4 separate regions of the Homo sapiens genome follow, and regions 1, 2 and 4 are each linked to region 3. Evidence: fine-mapped expression QTL. A gene starts in region 3. Each other region holds a variant in brackets. All regions are shown on one strand. Distances are between the middles of the regions. Region 1 has its middle 26 kb from the start of ABHD5. Region 2 has its middle 22 kb from the start of ANO10. Region 3 holds the start of ABHD5 (abhydrolase domain containing 5, lysophosphatidic acid acyltransferase). Region 4 overlaps LOC107986081 (a long non-coding RNA gene).

What was found. PIP is the estimated chance that this variant, and not a neighbour inherited with it, causes the effect. A credible set is the group of variants that fine-mapping cannot tell apart.
Region 1: its variant is the best candidate, but not a certain one, in a credible set for the expression of ABHD5 in whole blood (INTERVAL, PIP 0.53).
Region 2: its variant is the best candidate, but not a certain one, in a credible set for the expression of ABHD5 in whole blood (TOPMed, PIP 0.68).
Region 4: its variant is the best candidate, but not a certain one, in a credible set for the expression of ABHD5 in nasal epithelium (TOPMed, PIP 0.57).

What each region holds. Positions count from the first base shown.
Region 1 is chr3:43,660,805-43,668,716 of GRCh38, forward strand. It overlaps a transcript of ANO10 not described here. Among named protein-coding and RNA genes, the nearest start is that of ABHD5, 26 kb to the right of the region's middle. The variant T/C (reference allele first, on the strand shown) is at 3,437.
Region 2 is chr3:43,639,576-43,647,487 of GRCh38, forward strand. It overlaps a transcript of ANO10 not described here. Among named protein-coding and RNA genes, the nearest start is that of ANO10, 22 kb to the left of the region's middle. The variant A/G (reference allele first, on the strand shown) is at 4,332.
Region 3 is chr3:43,686,623-43,694,534 of GRCh38, forward strand. It overlaps ABHD5 (abhydrolase domain containing 5, lysophosphatidic acid acyltransferase), which reads left to right and starts at 4,316. Exons shown (of 7, transcript NM_016006.6): 1 at 4,316-4,417. The coding sequence starts at 4,371. It also overlaps a transcript of ANO10 not described here and the pseudogene TUBAP3. RefSeq lists a silencer at 4,488-4,967.
Region 4 is chr3:43,865,355-43,873,266 of GRCh38, forward strand. The region is part of intron 1 of LOC107986081 (a long non-coding RNA gene); the gene reads right to left. Among named protein-coding and RNA genes, the nearest start is that of ABHD5, 180 kb to the left of the region's middle. The variant T/G (reference allele first, on the strand shown) is at 3,871.

The sequences.
Region 1 (7,912 bases), 26 kb before region 3:
TTAGCCGGGCGTGGTGGTGCATGCCTGTAATCCTAGCTACTCAGGACGCCAAGGCAGGAGAATCACTTGAACCCAGGAGACGGAGGTTGCGTTGAGCCGAGATCATGTCATTGCACTCTAGCCTGGGCAACAAGGGTGAAACTCCATCTCAAAAACAATAAAAAGAAAACACTCTTCAGGATATTATCCAGGAGAACTTCCCCAACCTAGCAAGGCAGGCCAATGTTCAAATTCAGGATATACAGAGACCACTACAAAGATGCTCCTCGAGAAGAGCAACCCCAAGAAACATAATTGTCAGATTCACCAAGGTTGAAATGAAGGAAAAAAATGTTAAGAACAGTCAGAGAGAAAGATTGGGTTACCCACAAAGGGAAGCCCATCAGACTAACAGCAGATCTCTCTGCAGAAACCCTACAAGCCAGAAGAGAGTGGGGGCCAATATTCAACATTCTTAAAGAAAAGAATTTTCAACCCAGGATTTCATATCCAGCCCAACTAAGCTTCATAAGTGAAGGAGAAATAAAATGCTTTACAGACGAGCAAATGCTGAAAGATTTTGTCATCACCAGGCCTGCCTTACAAGAGCTCCTGAAGGAAGCACTAAACATGGATAGGAACAACCAGTACCAGCCACTGCAAAAACATGCCAAATTGTAAAGATCACTGATGCTATGAAGAAACTGCATCAATTAATGGGCAAAATAACCAGCTAGCATCATAATGACAGGATCAATTTCACACATAACAATATTAACCTTAAATGTAAATGGCCTAAATGCCCCAATTAAAAGACACAGACTGGCAAATTGGATAAAGAGTCAAGACCCATAGGTGTGCTGTATTTAGGAGATCCATTTCACATGCAAAGACACACATAGGCTCAAAACAAAGGGATGGGGGACGATCTACCAAACAAATGGAAAGCAAAAAAAAGCAGGGGTTGCAATTCTGGTCTCTGATAAAATAGACTTTAAACCAACAAAGATCAAAAGAGACAAAGAAGGCCATTACATAAAGGCAAAGGAATCAATTTATCAAGAAGAGCTAACTATCCTAAATATATATGCAACCAATACAGTTGCACACAGATTCATAAAACAAGTTCTTAGAGACCTACAAAGAGACTTAGATTCCCACACAATAATAATGGGAGACTGTAACACCCCACTGTCAATATTAGACAGATCAACGAGACAGAAAACTAACAAGGATATCCAGGACTTCAACTCAGATCTGCACCAAGCGGACCTAATAGACATCTACAAAACTCTCCATCCCAAAACAACAGAATATACATTCTTCTCAGCACTACGTCGCACTTATTCTAAAAGTGACCACATAATTGGAAGTAAAACACTCCTTAGCAAATGTAAAAGAACAGAAATCACAACAAAGTGTCTCTCAGACCACAGTTCAATCAAATTAGAACTCAGGATTAAGAATCTCACTCAAAACTGTACAACTACATGGAAACTGAACAACCTGCTCCTGAATGACTATTGGGTACATAACAAAATGAAGGCAGAAATAAAAATGTTCTTTGAAACCAATGAGAACAAAGACACAACGTACCAGAATCTCTGGGACACATTTAAAGCAGCAGTGTGTAGAGGGAAATTGATACTACTAAATGCCCACAAAAGAAAGCAAGAGAGATCTAAAATCAACACCCTAACATCACAATTAACACTACTAGAGAAGAAAGAGCAAACAAATTCAACAGCTAGCAGAAGACAAGAAATAACTAAGATCACAGCAGAACTGAAGGAGATAGAGACACAAAAAAATAAATGAATCCAAGAGCTGATTTTTTGAAAAGATCAACAAAATAGACCGCTACCAAGACTAGTGAAGAAAAGAGAGAAGAATCAAATAGATGCAATAAAAAATGATAAAGGGGATATCACCACCAATCCCACAGAGATACAAACTACCACCAGAGAATACTATAGACACCTCTGCGCAAATAAACTAGAAAAACTAGAAGAAATGGATAAATTTCTCGACACATACACCCTCCCAAGACTAAACCAGGAAGAAGTTGAAGCTCTGAACAGACCAATAACAGGTTCTGAAATTGAGGCAATAATTAACAGCCTACCAACCAAAAAAAGTTCAAGACCAGACAGATTCACAGCTGAATTCTACCAGAGGTACAAAGAGGAGCTGGTACCATTCCTTCTGAAACTATTCCAATCAATAGAAAAAGAGGGAATCCTCCCTAACTCATTTTATGAGGCCAGCATCATCCTGATATGAAAGCCTGGCAGAGACACAACAAAAAAAGAGAATTTTAGGCCAATATCCCTGATGAACATTGATGCGAAAATCCTCAATAAAATGCTGGCAAACCGAATCCAGTAGCACATCAAAAAGCTTATCCACCATGATCAAGTGGGCTTCATCCCTGGGATGCAAGACTGGTTCAACATATGCAAATCAATAAACGTAATCCATCACATAAACAGAACCAACAACAAAAACCACGATTATCTTAATAGATGCAGAAAAGGCCTTCAACAAAATTCAAGAGCCTTTCATGCTAAAAACTCTCAATAAACTAGGTATCAATGGAACATATCTCAACATAATAAGAGCTAATTATGACAAACCCACAGCCAATATCATACTGAATGGGCAAAAACTGGAAGCATTCCCTTTGAAAACTGGCACAAGACAGGGATGCCCTCTCTCACCACTCCTATTCAACATAGTATTGGAAGTTCTGGCCAGGGCAATCAGGCAAGAGAAAGCAATAAAGGTTTTCAAATAGGAAGAGTGGAATTCAAATTGTCTCTGTTTGCAGATGACATAATGGTATGCTCAGAAAAACCCCATCATCTCAGCCCAAAATCTCCTTAAGCTGATAAGCAACTTCAGCAGTACCAGGATACAAAATCAATGCGCAAAAATCACAAGCATTCCTATACACCAGTAACAGAGAGCCAAATCATGAGTGAACTCCCATTCACAATTGCTACTAAGAGAATAAAATACCTAAGAATACAACTTACAAGAGATGTGAAGGACCTCTTCAAGAAGAACTACAAACCACTGCTCAAGGAAATAAGAGAGGACACAAACAAATGGAAAAACATCCCATGCTCATGGATAGGAAGAATCAATATCATGAAAACGGCCTTACTGCCCAAAGTAATTTATAGATTCAATGCTATCCCCATCAAGCTACCACTGACTTTCTTCAAAGAATTGGAAAAACTACTTTAAATTTCATATGGAACCAAAAAAGAGCTCACATAGCCAAGACAATCCTGGGCAAGAAGAACAACGCTGGAGGCATTACACTACCTTACTTCAAACTATAGTACAAGGCTACAGTAACCAAAACAGCATGGTATTGGTACCAAAACAGATATATAGACCAGTAGAACAGAACGGAGTCCTCAGAAATAACACCACACATCTACCACCA[T/C]CTGATCTTTGACAAACCTGACACACACAAGCAATGGGGAAAAGATTCCCTATTTAATAAGTGGTGTTGGGAAAACTGGCTAGCCATATGCAGAAAACTGAAACTGGACCCCTTCCTTACACCTTATATAAAAATCAACTCAAGATGGATCAAAGACTAAAACATAAGACCTAGGGCCATAAAAATCCTAGAAGAAAACCTGGGCAATACCATTCAGGACACAGGCATGGGCAAAGACTTCACATCTAAAACACCAAAAGCAATGGCAACAAAGGCCAAAATTGACAAATGGGATCTAATTAAACTAAAGAGCTTCTGCACAGCAACAGAAACTATCATCAGAGTGAACAGGCAACCTACAGAATGGGAGAAAATTTTTGCAATCTATCCATCTGACAACGGGCTAATATCCAGAATCTACAAAGAACTTAAATTTACAAGAAAAAAGCAAACAAGCCCATCAAAAAATGGGCAAAGGATATGAACAGACCCTTCTCAAAAGAAGATATTTATGCAGACAACAGACATATGAAAAAATGCTAATCATCAATGGTCATTAGAGAAGTGCAAATCAAAACCACAATGAGATACTATCTCACCCCAGTTAGAATGGCGATCATTAAAAAGTCAGGAAACAACAGATGCTGGAGAGGTTGTGGAAAAATAGGAATGCTTTTACACTGTTGGGAGTGTAAATTAGTTCAACCATTGTGGAAGACAGTGTGGCAATTCCTCACGGATCTAAAACTAGAAATATCATGTGAACCAGCAATCCCATTACTGGGTATATACCCAAAGGATTACAAATCATTCTACGATAAAGACACATGCACATGTATGTTTACTGTGGCACTATTAACAATAGCAAAGACTTGGAACCAACCCAAATGTCTATCAATGATAGACTGGATTAAGAAAATGTGGCACATATACACCATGGAATACTATGCAGGCATAAAAAAGGATGAGTTCATGTCTTTGCAGGGACATGGATGAAGCTGGAAACCATCATTCTCAGCAAACTATCACAAGATCAGAAAACCAGACATCACATGTTCTTACTCGTAAGGGGGAGTTGAACAATGAGAACACATGGACACAGGGAGGGGAACATCACACACCAGGGCCTGTGGGGGGTGGGCGGTTAAGGGAGGGATAACATTAGGAGAAATACCTAATGTAGGTGACAGGTTGATGGGTGCAGCAAACCACCATGGCACGTGTATACCTATGTAACAAAACTGCACGTTCTGCACATGTAACCGAGAACTTAACATATATAATTTAAAAAAAAGAGAAAAATCTTGGTCATCTAGCATTGGTGATCTTAAGGCACTTATTATGGAGAACTCAAGTTTGCCTTCTTTACTGTTCTCTTGCCTTCCTTTTCATTTACCTTCCTCTCTGTCAACACCTTTCTAAAAACATATTGCTCCTGCTCAAGAACACAATATGAGTAATTCGCAAAATCTTCAGGATTCACTGGTTGGTCGTAGCTCTGACTTTGAGATCCAATTAGCTAGTTTAAATGTAATTATATTATTCAACCAGTTATTTGTGAGTGAAGTTGAATAATGCTCTCATTGTATGCAACGCCAGGAACTGATGGTTGTATGAAATGTTCAATTTAACATTTCCCAACTTGGTGGTGTTTAATTATACAATTATAAAGAGGTTTCAGCATGTGCTTTTATGTTAGGTATTTGTTTTTGTTTTCAATACACTTTTATTTTAATAACTCCAAAGGAGCTACAGAACGTGCAGATGACAAAAAATATATTAATGTAATTTTAAGTCATTTACATGTTAAGGAACATTTAAATTTAAAATAATACTATATTTCTGTCATATCTTCAAGGATTTTAATTCAAACCCTGATTTGTATGCTATTCAACGTACAAACACTGGTTTTGAAATAAAACCTATATTTCAAGCTTTAAAGAATAATTCAAAAGAAGTACTTAATGTCCCTTTGTTTTCTTTCTCTCAAGAGAATAAAAAGTCTCCCACTTGAATAAAGGCTAAATTACAGTGATGATTCAAACAACTGGAAAAGAAGAGATTAAGAATTACAGTTACATGGAGTATGAATTATCTCATTCTGGATTGGGGGAATTGAATTTTTAACTAAACCTCGTAATTAGTTTTCTGTAAGTTGTTAAAATAGCTAAAAATTAATGTAAGAGACCTAATTTTTTCTTGTTTGGGGATTTAGCCAGTATTCTATACATTTTCTTTAGAGTGATAATTGCTTTCTTGTCATTTGTTTTCAAGAAATAAAGATGATTATAATTACACTGACAAGATACTCAAGATGGGAAAGACTATATCTATATATCTATCAATCAATCATAGATATCTATCAATATTCTCAGTCCATTCTGTCTCAGACTATTCCTGCTTCTATAGTAAAATAGATGGGTAATTTATAAATAATAGAAATTTATTTCTCACAGTTCTGGGGGCTGAGAAGTCTAAGATCAGGGTGCCAGCAGATTTGCCATCTGTTAAGGGCTTGCTCCCTTCTAAGAGAGCTCTTGGGTGGCTCTTCTTGCTGCATCCTCACATGGAGAAAAGCCTGAATGCTGTGTCTTCACATGGCAGAATGGCAAATCATCACATTGTACACCTTAAATATATACAGTTTTTAATTTTAGTAGGGTATATGATTTGATTAATGTTAGCATGGTATATCTTTCTCCATCCATTTATTTTTAATCTACATGTGTAATTATATTTAAAGTGAAATTTATTGAAGGGAACATATAGTTGGATCTTGTTTTTTGACCCTTTCTTGTTTTTTAATCCTCATGCATTAAAATACAATGCATGTTTTTTTTTTTTTTTTTTTTTTTTTTGTCTTTTCTTGAGACAGAGTCTCGCTCTGTCACCCAGGCTGGAGTGCAGTGGGGCAATCTTGGCTCACTGCAAACTTTGCCTCCTGGGTTCAAGCAATTCTCCTGCCTCAGCCTCCTGAGTAGCTGGAATTACAGGCGTGTGCCACCATGCCCAGCTAATTTTTGCATTTTTAGTAGAGACAGGGTTTCACCATATTGGTCAGGCTAGTCTCAAACTGCTGACCTCATGATACGCTCATGTCAGCCTCCCAAAGTGCTGGGATTACACGCGTGGGCCACTGCACCCAGCCCAATCCATGTAATTTAATTTGTGTAGTTACACTATTGTTTTTTAAAATTTTTTGATTTGTATTTCAATAGCTTTGGGGGTACAGGTGGTTTTTTCTTACATAGGTAAGTTCTTTAGTGGTGATTTCTGAGATTTTAGGGCACTCGCCACCTGAGCAGTATACACTGTACCCAATATGTAGTCTTTTATCCCTCATCCCACTCCTGACCTTCCCTGCACCCTAAGTTCCCAAAGCCCATTGTATTATTCTTATGCCTTTGCATCCTCATAGCTTAGCTCTCACTTATAAATGAGAACATATGATATTTGGTTTTCTACTGCTGAGTTACTTCACTTAAAATTATGGCCTCCAGCTCTATCCAAGTTGCTGCAAAAGACATTATTTTGTTCCTTTTTATTCCTGACTGGTATCCCATGGTGTATATATACACTGCATTTTCTTTATCCGCTCATGGGTTGATGGGCACTTAGGTTGGTTCTACATCTTTACAATTGCCAATCATGGAGAAACATGTGTGTGTAAGTATCTTTTTATATAATGACTTATTTTCCTTTGGGTAGATACCCAGTAGTGGGATTGCTAGATCAAAAGGTAGTTCTTTTAGTTCTTTAAGGAATCTCCATGCTGTTTTTCATAGTTGTACTAATTTACATTCCCACCAGTCGGGTAAAACTGTTCCCTTTTCACCACATCCACACCAACGTCTATTGTTTTTTGACTTTTTTATTATGCCCATTCTTGCAGGAGTAAGGTGGTATCTCGTTGTGGTTTTAATTTGCATTTCCCTGATGATGAGTGATGTTGAGCATTTTTTAATATGTTTGTTGGCTGTTTGTATATCTTCTCTTGAGAATTGTCTATTCATGTCCTTAGCCCACATTTTTATGGGATTGTTTTTTTTTTCTTGCTGATTTGAGTTTCTTGTAGATTCTGGATATTAGTTCTTCGTTAGATGCAAATTTTGTGAATGTTTTCTCTCACTCTGTGGGCTGTTTGTTCTGCTGATTATTTCTTTTGCTGTGCAGAAGCATTTTAGTCTAATTAGGTTCCATTTTTTAATTTTTGTTTTTGTTGCATTTGCTTTGGGGGTCTTAGCCATGAATTCTTTGCCTAAGCCAGTGTCTAGAAGAGTTTTTTCTGATGTTATCTTCTAGAACTCTTACTGTTTTAGGTCTTAGATTTAAGTCTTTGATCCATCTTGAGTTGATTTTTGTATACGGTAATAGATGGGGATCTAGTTTCATTCTTCTGCATGTGGCTTGCCAATTTTCTCAGTACCGTTTATTGAACAGGGCATCCTTTCCCCAATTTGTGTTTTTGTATGCTTT
Region 2 (7,912 bases), 47 kb before region 3:
AACATAGTGAAACTCCGTCTCTACTAAAATACAAAAATTAGCTGGGCGTGGTGGTGCATGCCTGTAATCCCAGCTCTGTAATCCCAGCTACTCAGGAGGCTGAGGCAGGAGAATCCCTTGAACCAGGGAGTCGGAGGTTGCAGTGAGCTGAGATCGCACCACAGCACTCCAGCCTGGCGACAGAGTAAGACTCCATCTCAGAAAAAAAAAAAAAAGAAAGAAAGAAAAAGAAAATGTAGACAATTCTGCCTTTTTAGAAAGTAGGACCTGGCACAATAGTATACTTTCAGATATGAGCCTGTTTGGATGGCACCCCAGTTCATTCAGAGAATGTCTCCAGCATTATTTTGTCTTAGCACAACCAGCTGAACTCACTGGAGTGTCGCTAGCCTAAGCAAGCCTAGTCCTGAGAGTCGGGGTTGCAGAAGATGTATGTTAGGGTGAAAGTGGGGTGGTAAAGGAAGAGGACACAGAGTAGGTCTGAAAACAGTGTTCTGGACAATCATTCCAAAATGAACCACTCTACAAAGCTTTACTTGAAGGATTGATATTTAAACACATCAGTCATTAGATGTCTTTATATTTAATGGGTTTCAATTTCACAAGACCTCTCATTGCTGGTTGTGTGCTTTGAGGGAACAGGGAAGAAAAGGTTAAAAAATATACCCCCAGCTTATAATGTGGAAAGAGTTTACTTGAAGCTGCACCACTCAACCAAGTCCATTCTGTTGTTTCTAAACCAACAAAAAGCATGGTGAAGAGAAGGCATCTGGTGGATATTGGCTGAATTTTTTTAAAAACAACTGGCTAGCAGGGCAAAGCATCAACCCTGGCCAGTGGAGAACTTGCCATCTTTGCCTGGCACTACTTCATTCCACTCCTCCCTGACCCCAGTCAGCAGGTACTCCTTCCTCCCAGGCCTTTGCACAGGAATCATGCAAACTGGAACCCATCCCATGCACTAAAAAGATTCTGGAAGTTTCATTTCTAATGTTCCTATTTTCTCACCATGTAGCAAAAAAGCAGAAGAGCACACACTCCCAAATAAAATGGTGAATTCTTTTACTAGCAGTATTCTACTGAACAGAACTCTTTTAAAATGCATTTTTCCATTGCCACATTACAGTGATAATTAATATTCATAATAATGACCTTGAAGGTCTCTCAGAGTCTGAGGAACCTAATGAATAATTAAGAGAATGAAATGGTTTTCAATAAGATTTCATGCTTAGTGCTTTTTGTATTCTAATACTTTTGATAGATTGTCATGGTTGATTGTCTAATTCCCCAGTCATGCGAGTAAACAGAGAATTTAATGTGTTTCAAGGGGACTTCCATGGTAAGTTATTTGCAAGCATATTAAACCAAAATCTGAAGTGCATTAAAAATCCTCAGCCAACGCTAGCATACACGCAGGCTGCCACATGAATTGCAGCTATAGGGAGCTATGGCTAGCTGGAACCACTCAGAATCCATCCTTTTCCTTCTAGATAGAAAAAGAAAATAATTATTGGAACTAAGGATAATTATACATAAAATTATATACCAAAATATTGTTCTTATAGTTGAGGATTCATTTGTTGCTCTTATTCATTGTCATATGTTTAAAGAATTTGACACAAGATTGATATCAAAAAATTATCTGGATTGGGGGTTCCTTTCCTATTCCTGGTGCCACTTCATGCTGTAATAAACTCTCACTCTTGTTTCTTTCTTGTTACCCCTGTTATGGTAGACATATCACTCTACTTGGAGAAAATTCCAAATCACTGTTTACAGTAGAAGAAAAATCCAATACCTATATTCGGCAGTTGAAAGACCAAGATCCCAAAAGGTGATATGACTTATACAAAGCTACATAGCAAGTTAGTTATAGAGCCCAATGAGAACCTGTGTTTCCCAACTCCCAAGCAAAGGCCTTTGTGCAACATCCATTGCCACACCAAAGCCAATAACTGCTAATGAAAGTTCTCCACCCATTGCAGCCACGGAAACTGAAAAAACTACTGAGAAATGTTATTTCAACAAATGCATTTGACTTATAAGGTTGAAGTACCATATATTCTATTGAAAATGTCTGAATTGAAAGGATTTAAGTCACTTTAAGCAGAAAATTAGAGCACACATGGCACTGTCTATTTTTAGGATCTCTGAGTCTCAGGCACAGGCATTTTAGTAATTTAGATCTTTACATGAGTGCTCCTCCAAGTTTTGTTTCATCTTCAGAATGGAGGCCATGTCATCAAGCGAGTGTGGGAAGCTTGAGCTCATTCTACAGGAGGTTATGCCAGGTGCAGGAAAAGGGATTGCTTGGTGTAATAATTAGATCCTTACCACCTACCCACCCACCCACATACAGACATACACAGATACACACACACAGCTGAGCCATTTGAAAATAAACTGTAGACTCATGCCATTTCATTGCTAAATATTTCAACATGCATTTCCTAATAAGGACATTCTCCTTACTGGTGAGAAATGATATTTCGATGCCAAGATCAAGGGGCAAGGTATGTTAATTGACACAAGGGTATCATTGCTTCAAAGCCCTTTCAGTGAACAGATCCAGGAATGACAAATACACTTTTAAAAGGTTATTTAATGTGAATTTCTCAATGCAAATTTAACCTTACAGTGTTTTATTTTAAGTTCTTTGACTTAATAGTTGTTTTTGCCTCTCTTTTCTGTTACACTGAAAGTTTTGGTTTGTAATAATATAGTGTTTCTTTCCTCCTAATTCAGAATTGTACACTTGTTTTCTCCTAGTTCAGAATTATAATACTATATAAATAATAAATTACTGACTGAAATTTAAGATTTCCTTCTATTCATTTATCCTTAGATCAAATCCATTATGAGTGTATAATTAAAGTACTGAAATAATTCTGTTCTTTGTATAGCTGTGGTTGCCACATTTGAAATAAAGTTAAGCTCATTGGTCCCAATTGTTTTCCATTTTAGGATTTTACTTTTGTCTTTTTTATTTGAATTTTTTAAATATATAAAACATTTATGTGGTCCCAAAGTTAAAAAATACACGAAAAGGTAACCAAACCCACAGAAGTTTCACTCCTAACCCTCTCCCTTCACTTCATTCCCCCCACCTCCTATAGGTAATTATTTTTATTGCTTCTTTTTGCAAATATAGGCGAATACCTAAATATATTCTTATTCCTCCTTTTTCCCCCTTACACACAAAATATAGCATACTATACTAACTTTTTAAATCTAAAAATATATTCTGGAGATTGTTTCAATTCACAGACATTTTTTTTTTTCTGTGTTTTATGATGCCTGGTCGCCAATTCATGTATGTACTGCAGTTTATTTACAGCCTCTCTTGTTGGTGGATGTTTAGATTATTTCTAATCTTTTGCTACTGCAAACAATGTTGTGTTACATAACCTTGTGCAAATGTTACTGATTATTTGTAGAGATGTATTTTCTTTTCTTTTTTCTTTTTTTTTTTTTGAGACGGAGTCTTGCTCTGTTGCCCAGGCTGGAGTGCAGTGGCGCAATCTCGGCTCACTGCAAGCTCCGCCTCCCGGGTTCACGCCATTCTCCTAACTCAGCCTCCCGAGTAGCTGGGACTACAGGCACCCGCCACGACGCCCGGCTAATTTTTTGTATTTTTAGTAGAGACGGGGTTTCACCGTGTTAGCCAGGGTGGTCTCGATCTCCTGACGTCATGATCCACCCGCCTCGGCCTCCCAAAGTGCTGGGATTACAGGGTTGAGCCACCGCGCCCTGCCTGAGATGTATTTTCAAGGTAGATTCCTAGAAACGAGATTGCTGGGTGAAAGGTTAGCACATATGTAATTTTGCTCAATTTTGCCAAATCCCCATCCATAGGGTTTGTTCCATTTTGCATTTCCACTCTCAGTAGAGTATGTTATAAAATGTTTGGATCCAGAAGAATTCTAATTTGCATTTCTCTTATTGTAAGGGAAATTGGGCGTCATTTCATATGTGTAGGGAGTGACTTGCATTTCTTTTCGCTCTGTTCTCACATTTCTCTCTTTTCATGACTTTTGCCCATATTTTTATGCAATTTTGGAGCTTATCCATTGTTAAAAGCTTTTCATGTACTTGTCCTCATCTTTTCTTTTTTTTTTTTTTTTTTTAGATGGAGTCTCGCTCTGTCGCCTAGGCTGGAGTGCAGTGGCGCAATCTCGGCTCACTGCAAGCTCTGCCTCCTGGGTTCACACCATTCTCCTGCCTCAGCCTCCTGAGTAGCTCGGACTACAGGCACCCGCCACCACGCCCAGCTAATTTTTTTGTATTTTTAGTAGAGACGGGGTTTCACTGTGTTAGCCAGGATGGTCTCA[A/G]TCTCCTAACCTCATGATCCGCCCGCCTTGATCTCCCAAAGTGCTGGGATTACATGCGTGAGCCACCGCTGAGATAACTTGAAATTGGTCTCTCCTGGTCTGTCATTTGTTTTTTGACCTTGCTTCTTGTATTTTGTTTGTTTTAGGTAGTAAAGTTCACCAATCTTTCCCTGATTTTTTTGTTTGTTTGTTTGTTTGTTTGTTTTTGCTGAATGTTGAAAAGGCTTTCCGTGTCCCCAGGTTATAAAGTAATTCACCTGTGCCAAACCTCCTTGATTGCACATTGTATATTTGGATCTCTGGTCCATTTGGGATTTATTTTAGTGTGAGGTTTAGATTCACTCCATCCTTTTTCAGGTGGCTTTCTATTTGTCCCAACACTATGTATTTAAAAGCCCAGTTTTTCCTCAGGAAATAACTTGATTTAGTTTTAGACTTTAACTTGCTGTAATGCAGCACACAGAGACAAAGAAGCAAACATGGGGGTGGGAGGGTGAGAAATGAGATCAAGGAGTAGACTTGGTTACTCTGCCATAGAGTAGAACTGCTCCCTCCCTCCCTGGAACAGAGAGGAACAATGCACGCACAGTGTGTCTGTGCTGTCCTCCACTGGCCTCTCCAGATCCAAGATCTGGCCTACCTGGCCTGCTCTCCTCCACAAGGCTCACCTCTGTGGATGACATCACTCAGTAGCCTTGCCCCTGGCTTTTGATTGGGTTTACTCTGATGGGGGACTGTCACACTGCCAGGAGATCTGAGCACAAGATAAGAGAAACTGGATTCCCTTTGGCAGGTGCTGCAGTGTGCTCTCCATAACCACCTCTTCAATGGGTCAGCCACCCTTCTGGTTGCAGCTCTTGCTGACTTCTGATAGGCCCTTCCTCCCACTTGCCCTTCAGGCCTGGGCGGTAACACCTTCCCATTGGTGCTGGCACCCTGGGTGTTTCACTGCCCTCAGTTGCTTCCTCAACCTGTCTGCACCTCTGTAAAGAGGCCCTCTTGAACCCTTTTCAGGTATGCCTTCTTGTTCATTGAGTGTGCAGCCTGTGTCCTGCCAGAACCTGGCTGATACCAACGACATCACAAATACATACCAATCCATCTGTCAAAAAGGTAGGCAATATGGCTGTACTCCACCAATCCTAAATTTAAAAATTTACAAAGCCAATAAACAGTCAAGGAGGCCACATCTCATTTAGAGATCTTCAGTGATTCAACTTGATTATTCATTATTTATCTTGATTATCCTCCTTATTCACTATGCAAGGCTCTGGTCTAATTTGTGGTTGGCTTCAGAAAGCAAACGCATCTCAAAGATTTAAGGTTGAAATCCCAGCACTTTGGGAGGCTGAGGTGGGCGGAGCACAAGGTCAAGAGATTGAGACCATCCTGGCCAACATGGTGAAACCCCACCTCTACTAAAAATACAAAAATTAGCTAGGCATGGTAGTAGGTGCCTGTAATCCCAGCTACTCAGGAGACTGAGGCAGGAGACTCGCTTGAACTCAGGAGGCAGAGGTTGTAGTGAGCTGAGATCGTGCCACTGCACTCCAGCCTGGCGACAGAGTGAGACTCCGTCTCAAAAAAAAAAAAAAAAAATTTAAGGTTGAACTCCTCCTAGGGATATTAAAGAGAATATTCTCTGCCTCTGAAGACAATTCCACTAAAAACATTTCTAAAATATTTCAAGCTAGTATTCTTTCTGAAGTGATTGCTTTGAAGTCGGACATGTGCATGTGCAGGCTGTGCTATGTTTGCTTAAAATAAAATAAAAAATAACCCTGCTCCCATTACTCCCAGTCAAGCCCCTAGAGCTATTTCCTGGGCACATTTATTTACTCTGATAGCTCTGCACTTAGCTTTTCAAAGGCTCTGGCAAAGTTATTTAAGTATCTCTGCCTGGTGTTTTTTATTTTTATTTTTTTGAGATGGGGTCTGTCACCCAGGTTGGAGTGCAGTGACACGATCTGGGCTCACTGCAGCCTCCACCTCCCAAGCTCAAGCGATCCTCCTACCTCAGCCTCCCGAGTAACTGGGACTGCAGGCACGCACCACCACACCTGGCTAATTTTTTGTATTTTTGGTAAAAAGGGGTTTTGCCATGTTGCCCAGGCTGGTCTCAAACTCCTAAACTCAGGCAATCCACCCGCCTCAGTCTCCCAAAGTGTTGGGATTACAGGCATGAGCCACTGCGCCTGGCCTCTACCTGTTTTAAGTAGCTTAGTTGACTAGTGGAAAACGTCTGTGGGAAGTTTCTTATTTTTCTGCAGAGTCATGTTCAAAGTTATAGATTAGCTTGTTTTAGTATGTAAATTTTAGTTGTTTTACTCTGATACAATGTGAAAACAAAAGATTCGAGGAGTTCTAATTCCCATGCTTCTAAGAGGGGACTCTTTCCACTTCCCTATTTTGAGCAGGGATGATGAGGAGGAGGGAGAGTAGACCAAGGGCACACTTCTGCCTGCTACCTGTCCTGATCCTTGTATATGCTCATTGTAACAGCATGTGTGGCTGAGATTGTGAATTCGTCTTTGAGTTAGAGAACTAAGATAACAAATTTATGGTGGAAGGAGCCTTAGAAGACAGAGCCATGGTTATGGTCATGCTGAGTCAGTAGTCTCTACTTTTTGTTTGTTTGTTTTTGAGACGGAGTCTTGCTCTGATGCCCAGGCTGGAGTGCAGTGGTGCAATCCTGACTCACTGCAACTTCCACCTCAGCCTCCTGAGTGGCTGGGATTACACGTGCCTGCCACCACACCACGCCCAGTTAATTTTTGTATTTTAGTAGAGACAAGGTTTCACCATGTTGGCCAAGCTGGTCTTGAACTCCTGACCTCAGGTGATCTGCCTGCCTCAGCCTCCCAAAATGCTGGGATTACAGGTGTGAGCCACCACACCTGGCCTCTTCTTTCTTTACATAGACTCATATGACTGTTTACTTCTAGTTCGGTTCTAAAATGAGAAATTTGTGCTGGTCACACAAACTGTCCCTTTCAAGTATTATGGAGTCATCCCTGAAGGTGGGGGTACAACATCTGGAAGGTAAAGACTGGCTTGTTGTGAAAAGCGGGAAAGAAAAGCACCCTCCCTTCCCAAAGAAGAAAATTCTCTTCGACCTTCCAACTGTTAAGGTCTGGAAGTCTGCCATTGGAGTATGATTCCTTTGATTTATGGGTCCAGTCCAGAAGACTGGATGTATTAGTGTGGATTCTTCAAAGAACCAGAACCAAAAAGATATGTGTATATATGTGTGTGTGTGTGTGTGTGTGTGTGTGTGTGTGTGTGTATTCTATACCCATAGATAAATAGATAGATAAGAGATTTATTATGGGAATTGATTCACATGATTATGGAGGGTGAGAAATCTCATGATCTGCTGTCTGCAAGTTGGAGAATTAGGAAAGCCAGTGGTGTGTGTTGGGGAGTTGGGGGAGCGCTGGTATAAGCCCCAGAGTCTGAAGGCTTGAGAACCTGGGGCTTAGATGTCCGAGGGCAGAAGATGGCTGTCTCAGCTCCAGAAGAGAGAGTGAATTCACCCTCCTCCCACAGTTTTATTCTCTCTAGGCCCTCAACGGCTTGGG
Region 3 (7,912 bases):
AGACCTTGCTGTCCAGTATGGTAGCTACTAGCCACGTATGGCTTCTAAATTTTAACTTAATTAAAATTCAAAATTCAGTCACACTAGCCAAATTTCAGATCCTCCACAACCACATGTAGCTAATGGCTACTGTATCAGAGAGTGTGGGTCTAGAACATTTCCATCATTACAGAATGTTCTAACAGACAGGGTTGCTCTAGAGCTCATTACTTAAAGGGTAGTCTGCTGATTGGCAGTAGGAACACAGGCATAACTAGGAGCTAGTTAGAAATAGAGATCTCAGGTTCTACCTCAGACCTACAGAGTCAGAATCTACAATTCAACATGATCCACAGAAGTCTGCATGCAAATTAGAGTCCAAGAAGCCCTAAAGTCATGTGATTTTTTTTTTTTTTTTGAGAAGTCACTACAGCTGATTGATGTTCAGGCCCTTCCCTTGACCCAGCTACCACTTTCCCTTATCATCCTGTGTCCTTCTTATTATCTCCCTGCCACATTTGCTTTCTCAATATGTTTTATTACAGCATTTCTTTATAAACATTTACAGGCTGGGCATGGTGGCTTACGCCTATAATCCCAACACTCTGGGAGGTCAGGAGTTTGAGACCGGCCTGGGCAACACAGTGAGACCTGTCTCTACCAAAACCAAAAAATATTTACAAAGCAGCCAGGCCATTGAAGCCCTCATAAAACATCCCCTTCTCCATGCCCTCACTCTCATTCTGGTTTGTAAGTGCTTGCTTGGCAGGCTTGTGATAAAGGCCCAGGCCCCTGTGATGGTTGTGGTATTGCTCAGCACTTTGCCTGGGGAACTACTATTGGAGGGCTGGAAATTAAAGCCAACCTGAAACCCAGTGGGGCACCAGTCATCAACCAAGTGTATGGCACACTTGGTCTTGGTGGGACAATGGCAGCATTCAGTCTTTAGGCTACAACCCTGGGGCAGAACATGCAGAGCAAGCTCTGTACTTGCTTTGGTCAGTGTCATATCTGGCCATCTGATTGGAGAGTACAAAGTAGGTACTGGCGATCTCCAAATGTAAGCACTGCTCAACCAGGTAATTGGTTAGTAGGTCACAAAAAGGAAGTTAATTTGGAGGTAGGGGACCAAGCTGGCCTTAAACTCTGAGAGGTCTGCTTTCAGGGTACCATCAAAGTTCAGGGAGGTAGTGATGGAGGAAGTCTGGTCCAAGCAGTGGTTAAAGTATGTGGGGCCCTGGGGGTATAGGTTGCAATGACATGTGTTGGTCCATTGTCTCCCAAGAAGACACAGTCCAAGGGTTCCAGGGTGGCACGGTGGTCAGGATAGAGTTGTAGGGTTCCACCATTGCTGGCAACACCCAGGGGATAGGTGGATGGCCAATTCTAGCTTGGATTTCTTGCCATTGTTGAAGATGACTCCATCAGCAGCAAGGTGAAGCTAGAACAGAGCTACTCCCAGAGTTGAGGAAGATCATGAAGTCCTGTAGTCCTATGCACTGCTTGTCAGTTTCTGCATAAACTCTAGTATTGGATCAATGGTCTCTTTCTCTCTTTTTTTCTTTCTTTTCTTTTTTTGTGACTGTGCAGCAGGCACAGGCATCTTTGAGAGCAGACTCCAGGTCCATAAAGACCAAAGCGCTACAGGAGTTGCTGCAAAATCCTAAGGTTTCATTACTGGACTCAGTACCACTGGGCTTGCACTGTGTTCCAGGCGGTAGGGTCTTCAACAGACACTCTGAGAGGTGGGATTGTAGGGCATCAGTTTCTGCAGACACACTACAAGTGTCTGGCAACACTATTGTGGAGGCTAAAGTAACTCCATCTCAGATGCTAATCCACAATGTTGATTTCTGAGTAACCCCAGTTTTGGGAAGGCCTCCAAGTTTTCTACTTTATCTATTGTTCCTTGTATAAGAGCATGTGACAGGCTGTTCTTACATTGTTATAAAGAAATACAGCTGGGCGCGGTGGCTCATGCCTGTGATCCCAGCACTTTGGGAGGCAGTGGAGGGAGGATCATTTGAGGTCACGAGTTCAAGACCAGCCTGGCCAACATGGTGAAACCCCATCTCTACTAAAAATACAAAAAATTAGCTGGGCGTGGTGGCGGGTGCCTGGAATCCCAGCTACTCAGGAGGCTGAGGCAGGAGAATTGCTTGAACCTGGGAGGTGCAGGTCATAGAGAGCCAAGATCATGCCACTGCACTCCAGCCAGGGCAACAGAGTGAAACTCCGTCTTAGAAAAAAAAAAAAAAAGAATTACCTGGGACTGGGTAATTTATAAAGAAAGGTTAATTGGCTCATGGTTCTGCAGGCTATACAGGTGCTGGTATCAGCTTGGCTTCTGGAAAGGCCACAGGGAGCATTTACTCACGGCAGAGGGCAAAGCGGGAGCAGGCATCTTACATGACTAGAGCAGGAGCAAGAGAGTGAGGGGTAGGTGCCATACACTTTTAAACAACCAGATCTCACAAGAACTTACTATTGCAAGGACAGCATTAAGGGGATAGTGCCAAATCATTCATGAGAAATTCACCCCCAGAATCTAATCACCACCCATCAAACCCCACCTCTAACACTGGAGATCACAATTCAACATGAGATTTAGAGAGGACAACACCCAAATTGTATCAGAGCACATACTTACCTACCTGCCCTTAGGTCAAAACAACCTTAGTCTGGGAGGGTAACAGCACAGAGATTTACCTGTCTTGCTGCTGTCCAAGACCATGCTTCTGTCCGTAAGTTCCCTAATAAATCACCTTTTGCTGACAAGCTGGATTTGTCTCCTTCATTCTTTAGTTTCTCAGCTCCTTCTGTATTTGGAGGTCACTTTGAATATACGGCCCTTTCATGAAACAACCAGGAATTCCTGTAAAAATGTTTTTTATATGTTCTGGTCTTCCCTAAAATATTTTATGAATTAGATCAAACACAATAAAAAATGTATTAGTTATTACTATGCCTAAGAGATTATAAGTGGCTTTCCCCCCTCTAAATTACAGAAGACACCATTCCTATCCTAGAGGACTTTCTCGTGTAGTTGGAAAGATATTCGATAATGTTTATTTAAAAGCTGTAACAATTACACAAGGCTGAGAACCTGAGAGCTAGATGGGTGATAAAGACAGGTTTACAGTGGGGCTCAGAGGAGAGAAAAAGAGGGAGGAGAGTCAGGGAAGGAGAACAATGAACTGAGTCTAAAATAAAGGTTAATATATTCGCGTAGGATCTATCAAAACAGGAGCAGTATTTCAACCCATTGTTTTCAAGCACCTAGAACAAAGTGAGCCCATAGTAGACACACACCAAACATAAATGGATGAGTAGTAGTGGGTGGCAGAATTCCAAAAGCAGGTTGCACCTGATTGCTAAAAGGCTTGAAAACAGGTCAAGAAATACTGCTATTTAGGTTAGTCATTTCACCTCAATAACTCGAAGTACCTAAACATAGACTTTTTTTTTTTTTTTTGAGACGGAGTTTCGTTCTTGTTGCCCAGGCTGGAGTGCAATGGTGCGATCTCGGCTCACCGCAACCTCCGCCTCCCGAGTTCAAGCGATTCTCCTACCTCAGGCTCCCGAGTAGCTGGAATTACAGGTATGCGCCACCGCGCCCGGCTAATTTTGTATTTTTAATAGAGACGGGGTTTCTTCAGCTCAGGCTGGTCTCCAACTCCCGACCTCAGAAAATCCGCCCGCCTTGGCCGCCCAAAGTGCTGGGATTACAGGCCTGAGCCACCGCGCCCGGCCAACACCGACTCTTTTCACCCTCCCAGGTATCTAGAGAGTCGAGTGGGAGGGAAATTGCTGGCTCTGGCCACTACAGTAACATCAGCACCTAGAGCAGTGCTCAACTGACTGAAGGCTCCTGTGAGTCGCCCTCTCCCCCTGGCCCCCCAACCCGCGGGGAAAGGCTGGCGGGACGCCACACAGCACCTCGATTACGCCATTTCATTTGCCACTGCACCATCTATCGGACACTAGCTAGGCTCTTCCAGGACCGGACGCACCTCCGTCCCCAAGGTGCCACCTGACAGCCAACACCGACGGGGTGATGCATGAATACAGTCATTATTCAAATTAGCTAAAACACCTAACTCATTCGGGTGAGTCTCGCCAGTCCCTCTGGGCTGACTGTCCCGCCCCGCGCTTACACCCGGGAGCGTCGGGCGGGAGAACTAGTGCATGCTGGCTGGGGATGGCGGACGCAAAGCCGGAGGCAAGGCCGCGCACGCGCAAACGCGGGCGCGCCGCCGGGCCGTGCTAGTGCGCGGAAGACGCATGCGCTGGCGGCCTGCGCCGCCTTAAGTGCCGCGCCAGCCCGGGGCGGCCCAGTCGGCCTGTCAGCCGGCTTCGAGATAAGTCCCGGCGCTTGCGCGGCGGCGGCTATGGCGGCGGAGGAGGAGGAGGTGGACTCTGCCGACACCGGAGAGAGGTAAGCGCAGCCGGCAGGGGGCTTCGTGTGTCTCCGGCGCGCACCCTCCGCGCGGGCCGGGTTAGGGCCCAGCGGGCAGCACCAAGGAGTCGCCGCCCGCCTGGCGACGACGGGCGGCTTCCTCGACCCTCCCCGGCATGAGTCCGCGCGGCGCCCAGAGGCGTCCCGGCGCCGCTCTGCCTGGGAGAGGCTCCCCTCAGCGTCGGGGCCCCGAGGTGTCTGAGCCGGACTCCGGCCGCGCCGGGAGGCCGCCTTGACCCCGCGCGGAGGGTCCGCCCCGTTGTTGTATAAGCCACCCCGCGGGCCGGCGACGGAGCTGGCCGCGGCGGCCGCACCGGCTCGGGCTCTGCCAAGGGACCCGGCCTGCCCCAATGCCGCCGGCGGGCGGTGCCCGGTCGACCCTGCACCTGACTGCGAGGCGCGGGAAATGACCGGGTCTGTCAGCCTCCCATCGCGGCTTCCGTCTACAGGTACTACCTGTGCTCTGTCCAGCCTCAGCCACTGGACGATCCTTCCCGTAGCCGTAGGAAGGGGCGGCGCTTCCTTGGAGGGGATATTAGAGGCCCGAATTCGCCCGGGAAGCGGCGGGAGGGCGGGGGTGCCGGGAAGGAGGGAGGGGAGAAGGAGTGAGGGAAGTGGGTGTATGGCTGTGAGTTTCAGATACTTCATAGAAAGAAAGTTAGCCCTTAAGATAGAGATACACGTTCAAATGTCATAATTCATCTTTCGGATGAAGGTCTTTGGCTTGCAAGCTCCACTGTCCCTTATTTGTTTGCGCTTCTGGGATTATTCTGGCTTTACTGGCGAAGTGTGTGTTGCATGTGCCTTAGAAGAACACACATAATGTATAGGAAACTGTGGAAGTTGGAGGGCAGATGTCTAATGTGAAACTTTTTTATATACAGGTATAGTGAGTTTATTCTTTTCTACACCTAAATGACTTCTTGCACTTGTTAGTAGAAGAATAGTAGTTAATGAGTGGAATAATTAAATTGTTATGGAGGTTATTGCCTTGTTTCTCAAGGCCTGTCGTTTGTATTGGAAAGTAAACTTCCCCCATATATATTTAATTTTTTGACGTCGGTTCTACTTCAGACGTCTGGAGAAATTTGCCTAGGAAACATAACCTAAATGATAGAATATGGAGTACCATGAAGACAGGGATATTTGGAAAGATGTCATGGGGAAAAATTGTGAAATATTAGAAAGGAAGTTATTCTCTTGAGTTTTGTTTATTTGTTGAGGTTTGTTGATGAACTTCCTCGTTGCACTGAGGTGAAATGTTGAATGTCATGTGGACGCAAGTAGGAACGTAATTGGTAGGTTGTGTTCTCATCTTGTTTGTCACAACATTTTTGACTCTTGACACTACTTTCAGGTGGACTATTTGGTTTTGATGTAGTGGGGCCTTGGAGTCCAGGACACAATCGTGAAAGGGTTTTATGGCTTGGAGTGATGGTTGGAGGTCATTGGAGGTAGATGATTAAAAAATCCTTAGCAGCTGATCAGCCATAGTTTCTAGACAGAAGTGGGCTTCGCTGGTATTCTTGGCAATATGCTTTAGCAGTGTCCAGTGACTATCCCCAGAAGTGATCCTGTTAAATCCAAGGTTGCCCCTGTGTGCTGGGTATTATTGTTCCCATTTTGCAGTTGAAACTGCCACTGTAAAGGCTGCTAACAGCCTGCCAGCAAGTAGCAGGGCTGGATTGGAACCCTTTGTGGAACCCTTTGAGGTGTCTGGATTTAATCTAAGGTGCTTACCCTGTATCCCTGCTGCCTGTCACTGGAATTGGGACTCATGTGGGATGTTTGGCTCTTGTTTGAATACAGTTCCCTACCCTTAAGACATTTGAGGTTTAGATAGGGAGATAACATTAACAAAGGAAAGTTATAAAATGGTCATCTGATGGCTTTTTGGAGAATATGATTCTTGTCCTTTGCTTTGTGGCACTTAGTGAAGACAGGCATACTGGGATCCATTTTGCTTTCAACATCCAACCCCTTTCAGTTGCAATACAGTTGAGAAAGCTAAATGTAATGAGAGTAGAGTAGACTTCTGTGAATTGCTTTAAGTTGTCCTAGAGAATGATTTAGTGTCAATTGAGTTGAGAGAAAGCTGTCACAGAATTGCTCAGTTGCAGGGTAGACCATAAAAGAGGTGATTTGCAGTTGTGTGCTGGAGTTGATTTGTACCAGCAAGCCATTGCTAAATTTTCAGGAATTTTGCCAACGGTTGGCAGCTTGAAATTGGCCATGGTGGGAGTATTTACACCACGGAAATCATCAAATGCTATAAATAAGGTATAAATAAGGGATTTTTCTCTCCCCTCCCTGCTTCAGTTTGTTTGCCAGCTCCCCACTGGGTTTACATTAGACTGTGAATGTAGGTCTTTGCCTTGGAGATAGGAGAGTGGATTTCTCTATCTAATCTTTTTAAAAACTGGCAAGATATGTGCCTTTCTCTCTGCTGCCTTCTCTCCTTCCCAAACCTTTGCCACCTGATATCTTAAAAATCACAAAACTTTTCACTGCCACATCCCAATGGCCTTCTAGTTTTTTTCAGTACTTCTTCTTGGGTCCTTTTTGGTGTTTGTTACTGTAATGATAGCTACTACTTTTTGAAACTCTTATTAGACATTCTAGGTCTTAATGACATTTTGCCTTTTATCTTACCTTACCTGACCAACAATAACTTTTATTAGTTTCTCCTCTTTTTTTTTTTTTTGCATTCTCTAAATGTAGTCATTTTCCAAGATTCTGTCATCATCCTTGTTTTTATTTTTCATCTTGTTTACTCAAACGTGAACTGTCTTGTCTGTGGAGATGACTCAGATCTCATTTTCTTTCTGGAGCCCTCTTCTGTACTCTGGTAATGTTTCTAATTGTCAGATGTTTGTGCCTGATTCCTCAAATTTAACATGTCCAGACCATGATCTTATTTTTACCTTCCTGCTCCTAAACTAAACGATATAAAAAGCTTAGTTCTGGCCGGGCGCCGTGGTTCACGCCTGTAATCCTAGCACTTTGGGGTAACACCGTGAAACCCCGTCTGTATTAAAAATACAAAAAAATTAGCCGGGCAAGGTGGCGGCGCCTGTAGTCCCAGCTACTCGGGAGGCTGAGGCAGGAGAATGGCGTGAACCCAGGAGGCGGAGCTTGCAGTGAGCCGAGATCGTGCCACTGCACTCCAGCCTGGGCGACAGAGCAAGACTCCGTCTCAAAAAAAAAAAAAAAAAAAAAGCTCAGTTCTTCCTCTTGAAACATTATATTGGCTTAATCATTGCCTTGACTAATTGTTAGATTATTAGTTTAATCTCATGGTTCTGTAATTCCCACTCCTGATTGTGAGTTACTAAAAAAAATCATATGGAGAGGTGATTTTATTAAAACTGATTATTCAGTTGAGACCTAGGATTTTTAGTTTTATTCTCTTTATTATCTAGTGAATGAACTTATTTTAGAACTGATGCAAAGAAATGTCACTGACTTGTTAAG
Region 4 (7,912 bases), 180 kb after region 3:
CCCCCAAACAGGAAAGAAAACAGCCAGTCTTTCTTGCCATCAGCTAATGACAGAGCCAGTGCCCAACCCAGCCATGACGCACAGGGCACTGCAGCAGCTGACAGATGCGCAGAGTGAGTTGATAGAGTGAGCTGGAGTCACTCGGCCCTTGAGTCCTCCTTTCCCTCTGAAGCTTGTTGCTGGGGAGGATGGGAGGTGAGGTCACCATGTTCCCCCATAACCAGGTCAGGGTCTGCAGTCCCCCCATCTGCATGCAGCAGGAAGCTGACTCCTCTCCCTCTGTCCAGCCTTCCAGCACATGTACCCCATCACCAGGAAGGTCCTGCCCTGTGGCACAAAGCCGGAGTATACCTGCTGTTGGAGGAAATAAATAAGTAAGGTTAAGAACAAAGACCTCTCAAGTTTCAGCCAAGGTGTGGGCTATAATGGGGGCTGTCTTGTGCCAGGAGGTAATGGCTGTAAATCAGACCGCACTGGATGGAAATTTTGCTGTGTTTTGAAGTCCATTTGGTCTTATTGCTTGTTCAGCTTCTTAATGCATTAATGATAAAACATCAGAGTGAATATGTATTCCAAAAAAATTGCAATTAATCAATACTGCACTTATTCCATTTGGCTGCGACTAAGTGGTAAACAGGACTTAGGCCGGCTCCGTGAGCACAGGCTCTTCTCTGTCTCAAGGCCTTTCCCGGCAGAGTGAGGATGTGAGGGGGTGTCAACTCCTAAGAAGGAAGCAGCTGGCCCAGAGGTCCTGTGGCCAGGTATCCAGGTACATGCTCACGCCTTCTAGGGAGAACCAGCACTGTGGGCCTGTGCTACGAAAGACCAGGCAGTACCTCGTCCACACACCTGCTTACTGTCTCTGGTCTTAGGTTAATGCTTGCAATTTTCCCTCTCATCTGTGAAAATATGACATTAGCCCCACACCTTAGTGGGGCTGAGGACAGGAAGCGATTGATCAAAATGGGTGCCACTGTAAGAATGCAGCAGGTTAACAAGTGTTCCATGCTCATGTAGATGCTGGTCATGCATTAGTTATTATCATTTCCATTCACTCTCACCTCTTAGCCTCTTGGGATCTCAAACGCATTGTCTTCAGCAAGTGCTGCCTGCCTGATTTCAAGAAAAGCCCAGAGCAATGCTTCAAGTCTGAGTCTTAGACCATGATTTTGCAGATAAGGAAATTGAAGCCCACAGAGGTCAAGACCCAAAGTCACACAGCTGGCTAGAGGCAGAGCTTAGTCTTCCCATCCTGGAACTCTGACTTCTGACCATGCCTGACCTAAGTGATCTGGAATGGCAAAGAGTGAGGTCCCCATGCATAGGATATTCTGCAAATATTTGTTCAAGGTGGATTTAAGGGTGAGGCTGAGCTCTGTGGTGGGAATGAAGAAGATTATTAACAGCACTGGCATTCACCTCTTACTCAGCTAAACCAAAGCCCTCACTTAGGGGGACCTACACCCTGGGAGGCTGTTTAGAGAACCTCTGGTGTTTCCCAAGCATTTCTTCAGCAAATTCTTACTGAGTGACCACCTGAGTCAGCCACTAGGCAGTAGAGCATGTCCCTGGGGAACACAGCTTTCCTCCCCACAGGCAATGTAGCAGAAGATTCATTTCAAACACATGCTGCTTGGCATCTTTGCTTCCTAAAAATTCTGGTAAATTTAATTTGCTCCATTTTATTCCATCTCAAGCACCTCTTATTGCCTGGCTCCCGTGATCTGCCACTTTTCTGGCCTTAACCCCTGGATGACAACTCCCCATCACATAAACAAGGGCATATTATACAACAGCACATTCACTGGTCCAACTTTTCTCAGCTCAGGGGTGTTCTGGAAAATACAGTGAGGTCAGCAGCCCAGGGGCATGCCGGTGAAAGGGGAAGACACTGGATAGGTGCTCAATAAAGCCTTCTTGCTTAATGTCCTTCGAATGGCTAAAGACTGGACTCATGTCCCCTTTGAGCCAGGCCCTCCCCATTCCTTCTTCTTTATGTGACGTGCTGTATTAGCTTAGTTCTGTCTTCAGCACTATTCCCAATGGGTCTCTCTCCAACCAAGAGGCTTTCATCTCCATTCCCACTGCTGTCCACAATGGGCGGGCGGGCGGGCAGGGGCAGTGGGGGTGTCACAGAATCAAATTCCCTAGTGCCACCAGCTGCGGAGAAGCAAGGGTGGGGGGGTGACTGGTCAGACTGGTGGGTGTTTCATACCAAGCCCTGCTGTGCCCACTGAGTTGGCCACAGCCCCATGTGTTTGCCATGGCCCAGCTCCTCATCTGGCTGACGAGATGAACTCTTCCCATCGGCCTGATGAGAAGACTCAGGGCTCAGTGTCTGGGTGCTGGCCTCAGGCCTCAGCAGCATTTTCTTTTCCCAGGTGTGGCCATTTTCCTACCAGGATGAGCCACACAGCTCAGTAGCAGGGCTAAGTCTCACCGTGCTGTGGAGCCCAGCTCACAGAGCCAAATCCATTTGCAAAGGAGGGGCTGTCAGAGCTGCTGTTTGTCTTCTCAAGGCTGTGCAGCATCCTGCCTTAGAGTCTCGGCAGCCTTCCAGGGGAGTTTTGCTTTTAACTGTATTATAGTGGTTGGGCAACTTGGGAAATCTGAATTCCATTGACACATTTACAATCCTCTTGCCTCTCAGATCATGAAGAAACTCCATCTCATAGACACAAAGTCTTTCAGAGCTCTGGGCCTCTTAAAGGATAAAAACACTGTCTTATTGGATGGGAAAGTAGAGAATTTCTGGGCAAAATGGCACCCAACAGTGAAGATTTGGGTTCCTTTTCCTCTTGGCTTTTCACTGAGAGAGCAACTCTCTGGAGTAGACAGTCTCTTGCAACTGATCTTTGTTTACTTCAGTCACCACCATCAGAGTGATTTTGTCCACAGAGCCCATGAGCTTTTTAAGGGCTACAAAAGTGTCCCAAGGGCTAGGGAAAAACATGTTGGCAAAACAGTGCTAAAATAAAACTTTATTCGAAATTAATATATTGATAATTAAACAGCTACAAAATTTAACATTTTGTTAGCTAGTCAACTGCAATTCAACTCATGTCCTATTTTCACATGTAAATTCTGTTTGCATAAAGGGTGGGCATGTTGTATATCATGTGAGATGAATCCCTGAAAAGTCAGGAGGCTGTATTAGTCAATGTCCATTGAGGAAAACAGAATGGTCCAGGCCAAGTAGTTGAGATGAGGGGGATTTAATATGGGAAGGGCAAAGGGTCAGAAGAGTTAGCTGCAAAAGAAACAGGAGAAGGAGAGGCAACCGAGAGTTTAGCTACAACTAGAAGCCACCATCACCCCTTGGGCTGGAAGGGTCAAAGGAGGAGGGGATACTCCCAAACTTGGGTTCTAGGGGCCACTAGATAGGACTTGGAAGGAGAGGATACAGTGGGAGGCCTGTTGACAGAAGGAGCTGGACCCATGGAGAACATTCAGCCATTGCCAGAAACACTACCTGGAGCAGGGATAGTGGGGAGAAGTACCCTGGCTCCTCCCTGTCTCTCCTCTCCCAATCTCTCCCCAGAGCCTTTTGATAGCCACACCTATCTGCAAGCCAGTGAGCAAGAACTCCAGGACACTCATTCGCAGGGCTCACCCCTCTACGATGCAGAGAAGAATGGGAAACAGGACACGGCAGGGATATGAGAGCAAACCAGCAAGTGGCCCTACCCGTAGCTTAGGAGGGACATTGACAAGCAGAAGTGTGCTTGTAAGAGAGTGACAAAGGTTGTGAGGGACTCAGGTGCCAATCTTATGAAGAAGAGGCAGGAATCATGAATTGTTGGCTGAACACAGACTTTCAAAGTTCAACCTAGGGAAGACTTCCTTTCAGAGTGTCCAGAGAAGAAGAGG[T/G]CTGCCTTAGGAGGCAGGGAGGGATGAAGGCTAGGAAGGGGAGCCGGGTCAGATGATTTCACAGACCCATTCATTCCCTGAGAGTGTGATCCTGCACTCCACCACCATGATGCTGAGAGCCGGTCCATGTGGCACTGGCTAGACTAGAATGATAATACATATATTGATGAGAGGTTTGCTGCAAAAATGACCCATAACAAACAGCCCTGATAGCTCAGTAGCTTACAGCAACCACTGATTTTGTACCCACCATGTGCTGGTTGGCTGTGCTTTGGCTGGTCTTGGCTGGACTCAGCCAAGTTTAGATGAGAGGGGCTCACTCAGGGCATCAGGTTGGGACCAAGACTGTCCCACAGGTAGAGTGAGCTGTCCCAGCTTTCTGCTGGGGCTCAAGCTGGCTTCAGGAATGTGCTTTTCTTGTGGCAGAGAGTGGAAATGCCAAGAGGACTGGCAGGAACGTGCTATCTGCCTAGGGCCTCAGCTCAGAATGACACACTCTAACTTCCATCCTCTTTCCATTGGCCAAAGCAAGCCATATGGCCAAAGCCAAAGTTAAGGGTAGAGGATCTGCCCACGGGAAAGTCATATCAAGGGATAGGAGGGTAGCAACGATTTCAGACAAGTAATACAATCTACCATGGATAAAAAGAATATTTTAATAGTAATGGGGCAGTATAGCAGAGTGGTTAAAGGGTTTGAGCAAACTGGCAAGGGTTTGAGCTCCACCTCTGCTACTTCTGGACAAAATGGCCTTGGGCAAACTCTCTGGGCCTCCTTTTCCTCATCCAGAAAATGGGAAGCCTAGTATGCAGACCTTCCAGTGTGGCTGTGAGGGAGCGCTGGGCTGACAGATATGAAATGCTGAGCTGGGTGTCTGGCATCTAAGAAGAGCCTAATAGATGCTGGCTGGTACGTTGTTAGGAAGAATCTATTGAAAATTGTGCCTTCTGGAGACAAGGCATGCAGCAAAGGTGAGGGGAGAAACATTTCAGGGAAATAATTTGAAAATCTCTGCATGGTAGGCTTATGAAAAAAGGAAATACCTCAGTAACTGAGTCATCCCCTGAGCTCTGGGAACAGAAAGCCTGCAGGCTGGCACTGTTCTCCACTGCAGAGTTGACAGCTTGTTGGAGGAGGAGTGGCACAAGGTGGGGAGGGGGGCAGATTTCCTCTCCTGACGACTTGCTCTGGTTCACCCACAGCCCCATGCACATAAAGGTCCAGTTTCTGGAAGCAGCCTTAGAAATTCTGTGGAATTTCTGGGTCCCAGGAACTGCCACTTTGCAATTTGAGAATTTAAATATATGTAGATGCTTAGTCTTTTCTTTTACAGAAAGATACAAATTCCTCCAAAAATACATCGTCCTCAATCATTTTTTATTCTTGTGCCTACCCAAATCAAGCCCTAAGCTGTTGAAAGAAAGAAAGTAAATAATAGGGAAAGAGACAAGCAAAAACCAAATCGAAGTTTCAAAAACCAGGTGAAAATCCCACCAGTTATGAGATGGCCTTGATTGGGGGCCAGGAGGGCAGGCGTGGGTTTCCCGGGTCTCTATGTGACACAGTGGTTAGAACATGTCTTTTGGAGTCAAATTGCCTCAGTTCAAACCCCATCTCTGCTGGCCCCCAGATATGAAACTGGGTAAACAAGCCCTTATGAATCAGAATCCTCATCAGTTAAAATCAGACGATGTTAGCTTCTTTCTCACAGGTAATTGCAAAGTTTGCAGGAGATACTAGTGGCTCTTGAAGCACTTGCTATGTGGTGGCCACATGCATTGCTTTTCTTTGTGAAGGATCAACACAGTTGATAAGCACTCTATTAGCCAAGGTCAAGAATTTTATTTCCACATGGCAAACAGAGTGTTTGCTTTGAGAAGAGATCAGGAGGGATGAGGAGGCATGCTGAACAAAATACAACTGCTGGCCAAATTCAGCCCATGGAACCAGTCTGCTGGTTCTCAGCTTTGGAGGCTCAGCAATTAGATTTGTTAATATAACTGTCTTAGTTTGAGTTCCCCAAAGCCAACCCTGAGATGAGGATTCATCTGGAAGCAATTCATTTGAAAAAGATTTATTAGCAATTGTTCCCTGGAAAAACGGGTAGGCAAGTGGGAAAGTAGGACCAAGAAGCAGGAGTGTGACATCCTGCCTGGAGGGTAACTTTGGCTGTTTCCCCCAGGTGAGCTCTGGAGATAGGGCAGGTGACACCTCAGAGTGTCTGGGGGTGGGGGAAGCTGGGGATTGATCAGTCATTAGTCACAGGTAGCCCCAGGAAGAGGCACATCCCAGGCATTTCCAGCTCTCCATGCACACAGGCAAAGTGGGTTTCAGCAGCCTGAGAGCTGTCCTCAGATGCTGGCTGTTAAGGAGAAAGCACAAGAGGTGTCTATGGGCACAAAAATGGTGAAGGGGATCCAAGGAGCTTGGGCAGAGCAAAGCAGCAACTGGTACAACACCCAAAGGTGATAGGTGCCGGGACTGACTTGCAGGAAGCAAACTCCCAAGAGATGGCCACGTTTCCAGGGAGAGACAGAACTAGCCAGCACTTCTGGTTCTCATGTCCAAGGATCCTCAGCCCATGTTCTCCAGGGAAGAAAACCTCTGTTATAAACGGGGATTACAGGGTAATGAGGCACTCACCACCAGAAGCTTGGTTGGATTTCATAATGGCTGAGTCCTGGAGCTTCAGCAGTGATAAGAGAAGGACAGGACTGTTTGTGGGTCAGGACTCCATGTTGCCCTGCCAGAGCTGGAGGCAACAGCATCACGGGCAGCCTTGTGGTGCAATAAGAGACATGCTGCCCTTGGAAGTCAGGTGGAGCCACGTTCCAACCCCGTCTCTTTCATGTTTGAGCTGCGTAACCTTGGGCCTCTCTAAGCCTCATCATCTAAGATCTGCCTGGAATGCCTGCCACCCCAGCCCTTGTAGGGTCGATTCAGAATCAGTGTCTTATACCTCCTCCTTAAAGAGCCACGGGATTCCTGCTCTATGTGAGGGAGCTGTTGCTCAGAAAAGAGTACATGACAATTATCATTGCCTGTGTCTTCCCCTTGGCTAGCCTCCCTGTATTTCGTTGCTCCTCTTTCCCTTTCTTTTTGAGAAAAGGGAGTTTGTCTCAAACTCCCTGAAGCCTGCCCCCTGTTTCTCCCCACCTGGGCTGCTGCCCCCTCTTTTTGTCCTTCCCTCTCATGTAGTCACCACCCTCTGTCTTCATTCCCCCAAGCACTGCTAACAGGATGCTGTTGTGTGTCATGGAATCTGATTGAGGCTGGGGAGTAATGAAGGGGGGTATGACAGAGCCCAGAACAGGAAGCAGCTTTCTCTGCAGTCCTGGAGATGACTGTACTGGAAGGCTGCCGGGCTCTCCCCACCCCTGGGGAGCATCTACTCATCCTTCTTATCCCCAGGCCTCCCCTCCCTCAATGCTGATGGACCCCTCTTGCATGACGGCCCTCTCTCAAGCACACGCTCCCCAAACCTCTCCCAATGCTGGCTGACCAAGGACAGGTCTCAGTGCCTGTGGCCCCATCAGGTGGCCAGCATGGCTCTTCATGGTCTTTACCCCCTTTCCCTCTGGTCTAGACACAGGAACCTCATTTTTCTCTACCATAAACAAACAAGAGGAAAGAAAAACAGAAGGCTTCCCCATTTTTTTTTTTTTTTTTTTTTTTTTTTACAAAAATGCAGCCAAGCCTAAGAGGCTAACAGGGACTTTGTATTTTTCCAAGACGTCTGGATCAAACGGCAGCTTGGTTTTCACAAGACCATCCCTTCCAGACGCTTATTGTTGCTCCCAACCCCACAAGCCTCTCGTTCCCTCTTCTCTTGTTCCCCCTGTGTTCCCCGCCCCCAACACACACTGCCTCTAGCTCTTGAATTCCTCCAATCACAGCAAGTCTGGGCTGCAGCCCTCCTGCCTCTTTAAGGTGACTTGGCATTTCTCTGTGTGGATCCATTTTTGCATGCTTTATGGTTTAACTGGCAGAGGGATGTCTTATTTCCTGATCTCCGAGCTGTCTCAGGCAGTCTCTGCCAACA